Linked DNA regions of Homo sapiens: region 2 is linked to region 1. Evidence: fine-mapped expression QTL. A gene starts in region 1. The other region holds a variant in brackets. All regions are shown on one strand. Distances are between the middles of the regions. Region 1 holds the start of WDR86 (WD repeat domain 86). Region 2 overlaps WDR86 (WD repeat domain 86).

Region 1 (2,728 bases):
CACTGGCTGTGCGACCTGGGCGAATTACTTAACTCCCAGCCTGTTTCCACGTCTGTATGTGGGGTAACATAGTGTGACGACGGCACACTTCTCCGCACCGCTGGCCCTTAACAAGCGTCTACTGTTGCTGTGAGAGTCGTCAACAGGAAATGCCAGCAGAAGAGCACAATTGGCCACAAAGAGGCCACAAGGCACCTAGAGACAAGGGAAGGTTTGCTTAGAAGGAGTATAGGTGCAACTTTTTGTTTGTTAACATTGTTGTCAAGGGAGATTTCCTGCCGCTGGTTGACAAATGATCTTCGCCTTTGTAGCGGACGCCCCTCGACCCACCCACCCGATCCCGGCCGCACCCTGCTCTGCACCCGCACCCCACCCCCAGACCTCACCCTGCCCTGCCGTGCGCTCAACAGCCAGATGCTGGGCCCAGACAAGCGCTCTTCCGCTAGTGTGCCGGGATGAGCGGGGGCTGGACTTCTAGAAAGGGGTCTGCGGGCGCAGGAGCTGGGGTCCGCGGTCTGGGGCCGGTGAGCTGCGGCGAAGAGGTCAGGGAGGGAGTGGGAGGGTCTACCTTGCAGGAGCGCGCAGCACTGGCCGTCCGCGGTGCTCCAGAGCCGGGCCGTGCCGTCCTCGCTGCCCGTCAGCAGGCGCTGCCCGTCGGGGCTCAGGCTCAGCCAGTTGATGCCCCCGCGGTGGTCGGCGCAGACCCTCAGGGCCGACCCGCCGCCCCCCATCCCGCTGGCAGGGCGGGGAACAAGAAGGAGCTGCGCCCCGCTAGGGAGGGGCGCCCCGGGGTCCGCGCGGCGGCTCCGTACGACTGCGGCCCGCGGCCATCGCGGGGAACGGGGAGCCCGACTCCTGCGGAGGCACGCGGCGAGGGGAGGGTGAAGGACCCTAGCTCCCCGCTGCCTCCAGCCTCTGGGCCCGCGAACCCAGGGCGCTGCGGGGGGCGGCCCACTCGGGACCTCCGCCCTGGGTAGAGTCCTGGGCGCGCGGGCAGAGAGAACCCCCTTCCCAGCACCGCTCGGAGGATCCACACCCCACCGGGCGAACAAGGCAGCTGCGTCTCTGGTGCACAAGGAGCCCCCCGCCTCCTCTCGCGCCCACGGGGCTGGGGCGGGGAGAGGAACACGGGAAGCCGAGCGCCCCGCGCCCTCCCCGGCCGAGCGCGGAACAATACGGTCCAGCCTGGCTCCTCCTCAGAGACCACCCCTCACCCGATCCCCTCCCACTTCTCGGGCTGCGCCCCAGCCCCCACCCCGCGCGCCTGCAGCCTCCCCCCTTCGTCGCTGTGCGGGTCCGGGGGACGGCTCCACGTGCGACCCTCCTAGCTGCCCGGGCTGCGCCTCTGGGCTCTGGCCTCTGCCACCTCCGCCGCCGCCGCCTGGGTCCCCTGAGCCAAGGGCCGGGACGAGGGAGGGGGAGGCGGACAAAGGGTCGGGGTCGGGGAGAATCGCGCGCCGGGAACTCATTTGGGGCGCAGCTCCACCGACCCCTCGGCTACTCGCCTCCACCAGGCAAGCCAGGTCCTCCCATGCTCTGAGCCCTAAGGACTCTGCCCGAGGGGCTCTCGGGGACTTGGGGGCGGTCCCCCAATGGAGGGTGCGACAGGGAAAGCCCCGAGTCCGCCCTCCCTGGGAAATCACGCGCACACCCAGGATTCTACTTTGGTCTGGCCGGAGTGGGGATGAGGTGCGAGCCGCTGCGGGGTCGGTGGAGCCGGGATGTCAAGTTCACCTTCCAGCCGCCGCGGGCTCCCTCGGCCTGGGGCGCCTCTAATGGACCCCGGGGTCGGCCTGAGCCCTCCCGGAGCGCCCGGCGGCTGGTTTCCATTAGGGCAGTTCCGGCGCCGACTTCGCTGGGGACGGGGAAGGTGACCCCCCTACTCGGATCCCCCAGGTCCTAAAGGTAGCAGGATTTCCAGAACGCTCCAGGGCTCTCTCAGGAGCCTAGGGAGAAGGGCAAGGAAGGGGCGTCTTTGGCGAGCTAGCCCGCAATGGGACGACCAGTACTGCACGCTCTGCTCTATCCAGACTCCAAAAGAAAACCCCATCGTGGGGTGTCCCAGGCCGTTGGGTCGTTTATACCCAGAGTGGCCTAACCAGAGAAATCCGTTCTTTTCCCTCAAAACTTGTAAAGCAGCTGGCGCCTCAGCTTAAGGAGCGTGGCCCTTCCTTAGCAGGTGGTGGAGAGAGGGGCAGTGGAGGAGCGTTAGGACGAGATTTGGGGTCATCCAGCCGGAGAGAGGGAGGCCGAAAGGAGAGACGTTTTCAGGAGGTGGAGGCTTCAGCATTTGGATGCCTGCGAGGCGGGAGAGGCCGGGGAGCCTGTCTTGTGCTGAGAGGCTGGGTAGACTGTTTTGTCCCCTACAGGCTGATCACCAGTTCCTCTTAGGAACCGGTGAACCTCAGGGGGCCCATTGCACATCCAGGTGTGAAACTGCGGTGTGGCCTCCAGGTGAGGACAGACTCGGTATAGTGGGGATCTTGGGCAGGCCCTGCGGCTGCAGCCCTTGGGGAAGGTGAATGTGAGGACCATGGAGGCTGGGAGGGTTTATCCGGAGAAGTGCCAGAGGAAACCCAAACTTTCTGGGCAGAGGGGCCAAGGAGAACCAGGCATCGACTCTTTTGGAAACTAAGAGGGGAGGGGTTTGAAAGCAGTTTGGGAGCTGGGGACAGATCGTAGGTTGGGCGAGCTTGCCTGGTCGTGGGCCAGAGGAAAGAACCACCAG
Region 2 (3,000 bases), 28 kb before region 1:
AGAGGACACAGGAGCACTTTTAACGTTCAGGCTGTATATTTCAGTTCCCCCCAAGGCCCTCGAGACGGACGATTTGCCAAAATAACCAGGTTCAGTGGCTTCTGTAAAAAGTCACTTCCTCTCAGCAGGAAAGGCCCAGTTTCGTGGGGCTGGGGGAGCTGGGGCAGTCCGCCTGCAGCCCCTGAGGTGGGAGGGTCCCCAGGACTAGGCCTTTCGCCAGGTCAGGGATGGGGAGGGAGGACAGGAGCCACCCTAAAAGGGAAAAGGGGGCGGTCCCCAGGGCGAGCACTCCCGCTCCCAGCGCCTCCTGGCCACCAAAGAAAAACCAGACGCCTGCGACGGGCTCTCCTCCCGCCCGGGCTTCCTCGCTCCTCGCCCCTCGCCGGCCATCGGGCGCCACCACCGCGGGTAGCAGGGCGGGGCGCTCTGGGAGCCGCTGGGTGTCTGGGCTGGCGTCTGCAGGGGCCCCGCGGGATCAGGCCGGCTGCAGGGGCGCGGCGGCGCAGCCCACCTTGTTGCTGAAGAGCCGCGAGAGGCTGCGCATGGGCGGAGGGGGCCGCGGGGCACCTCGGAGCCCGCGCACGTCCCAGAGGCGCAGGGCGCCGTCGTGCGAGGCGGTGTAGAGCACCTGGCCGTGCACCTGCGGGCGCAGGGGCGGGCGTCACCGGTGACGCGGTAGGCGGGGGGGACACCGCTGCCCGCGTGGATGGATCGGGGCGGGGCACCTTCCCTCCCACGGGCGGCGGCCCCGAGAAGGGCAGAGGGACCTACCTGGATGCAGTTGATGATGAATGTGTGGCCCCGGAACACCCTCCGCAGCTCTCCAGACTGCGCGTCGAAGGCCCGGGCGCAAGCGTCCCCGCTGCCCGTGAACACTGCGGACACACAGCGCGCGCTGGGCCTCCCTCCCTGCTCGGCCCCCCGCAAGCAGGGATGGGGCGGCGAGAGCGTGACCTGGGGCGTCTCCGAGACTCCGCCCCACGGGGGTATCCTGAGGCTCATATGGGAAGTGGACAGTGCCCCTCCAGAGAAACGGGTCCCCACGGTTATTCTGCTCCACCCTGCAGATGCCTGCGCGCCAGCTGGCCCTGCCCCTGCCCTGCTGAACACCGCCCGGGCCCAGTCCCCACTCCGCGGTTTGGTGAAGTTGGTTTCCGTGCCTGCTTGGGAAGCCCCTGCCTGGGGATAATCGTCAGGTCCTCGAGTCGCTTCCCCCCTACCTTCCGCTGCGTCGGCAACCTTATCCTCCCGTCCTCATTAACGGATCGGCACTCAAATCAAAGCCCAGCCCTCTGGGGTTCATGATCACGCACCCCCGGGACCCCTAG[C/T]GGGGGCGAGCCTCCGACCTCAGTCTGTCTCCTCCCCCAGGTGGCTGCCTCTCCCTGGGGTTTCTCCTAAGATTTCAGTCCAATCGTTTTCCAACTGCAACCTGCATTTGCATCCGTCACTTGGAGGTCTTAGCCACAGATCGCGGGGCCGCATCCCAGAATCTGATTTAGCAGGCGGGGCCTGAGAATCGGCATTTCTAACCAGTTTTAAGTGATGCTGCTGCTAGTCAGGAGGCCACACTGAGGATGTGGACTAGAAGAACTCACTTGGCCTAGGCTGGGCTCTCCGAAGCCGACCCTGATGCTAGGACTTGATGCAGACAGTTCACCTGGCAGGCGTCCCAGGAAACGCTCACAGGGAAATGGGAGATGGAAAGGGAGGGAGGAAGTCCTGTGGGGTCTGTCAATGAGCAGGTAACTACGGTGGGCAGCTATGGTGCAAGCCTGCCAGGGACCTTGGGGAAAAGGGGTAGGACCACCTGAGGGTAAGGGTGCTGGGCTACCTATCTATCTGAGGGTGCTCTGTGGGTACTTGTTCCCCAGCCTTTTTTTTTTTTTTTCTTACAGGGAGACAGGGTCTCACTCTGTTGCCGAGGCTGGAGTGCAGTGGTACCATCTTAGCTCACTGTTAACCTTGAACTCCTGGGCTCAAACGATCCTCCCGCTTCAGCCTCCTGAGCAGCTGGGACCACAGGCATGCACCACTACACCCAGCTAATTTTAAAAAAAACGGGGCGGCGGGGTGGGGGGGGGGAGCTGGGCACAGTGGCTCACGCCTGTAATCTCAGCACTTTGGGAAGCTGAAGCTGGCAGAGCAGATCATGAGATCAGGGGTTTGAGACCAGCCTGGCCAACATGGTGAAACCCTGTCTCTACTAAAAATACAAAAATTAGCTGGGTGTGGTGGCACACACCTGTAGTCCCAGTTACTTAGGAGGCTGAGGCAGGAGAATCACTTGAATCTGGGAAGTGGAGGTGGCAGTGAGCCTAGACTGCGCCATTTCACTCCAGCCTGGGCCACAGAGCAAGACTCCGTCTCAAAAAAAAAAAAAAAAAAATGTTTGTAGAGACAGGGTCTTGCTATGTTGCTCAGGCTGGTCTTGAACTACTGAGCTCAAGAGATCCTCCCGCCTTGGCTTCCCAAAGTGCTGGGATTACAGGCATGAGCCACGGTGCCCAGCCTGTTCCAGCCTTTTTGTTAAAACTACAGAGTGAATGGCCCCAGAGGGGAAGTTTCATTTCTGGGTCTCTTTTCAGCCCCTTTCTGCCTTCCCCCCACAAACTCAGACAAATGGACATGGCCTGGAAAACCCAGTGTGGCTGCTGAGCTCCCCGCGGGTGGGAAGAGGATCAAAAACAAAGTCTGATCATCCCATAGCCTTGCTGGCCAAGACCAAGAACCGAGCTGGGCAACAGTGAGCTGCAGGCTTCGCTTTCCCTGCGGGCTCCATGCCCCGGCTGCACGGGGAGGTGTTCTAGGCGGCCGCCGGCCAGAGCCTTTGAGAGTGGAACCTTCCTCGTGTTCAATTAGAGGACCCAGACTTGGGAACAGAGCCGTAACCACACTTCCAGCCTTGGACACAGGAACAAACGAAAAATAATTTTTCTGTGTCAGACACCTGAATCCTGAGGGCATGTCAGGATCTATTTTCAGATATCTACATTCTGTCTT

Evidence for each region.
Region 2: its variant is fine-mapped to the expression of WDR86 in whole blood (INTERVAL, PIP 0.97).

What each region holds. Positions count from the first base shown.
Region 1 is chr7:151,408,859-151,411,586 of GRCh38, forward strand. WDR86 (WD repeat domain 86) reads right to left here and starts at 1,180. Exons shown (of 6, transcript NM_198285.3): 1 at 569-1,180. The coding sequence starts at 731. WDR86-AS1 (WDR86 antisense RNA 1) reads left to right here and starts at 303. Exons shown (of 6, transcript NR_109857.1): 1 at 303-524; 2 at 2,370-2,454. RefSeq lists an enhancer at 1,746-2,378.
Region 2 is chr7:151,381,107-151,384,106 of GRCh38, forward strand. It overlaps WDR86 (WD repeat domain 86), which reads right to left. Exons shown (of 6, transcript NM_198285.3): 5 at 772-875; 6 at 18-640. The coding sequence ends at 476. Among named protein-coding and RNA genes, the nearest start is that of WDR86-AS1, 27 kb to the right of the region's middle. RefSeq lists silencers at 261-420, 441-680. The variant C/T (reference allele first, on the strand shown) is at 1,329.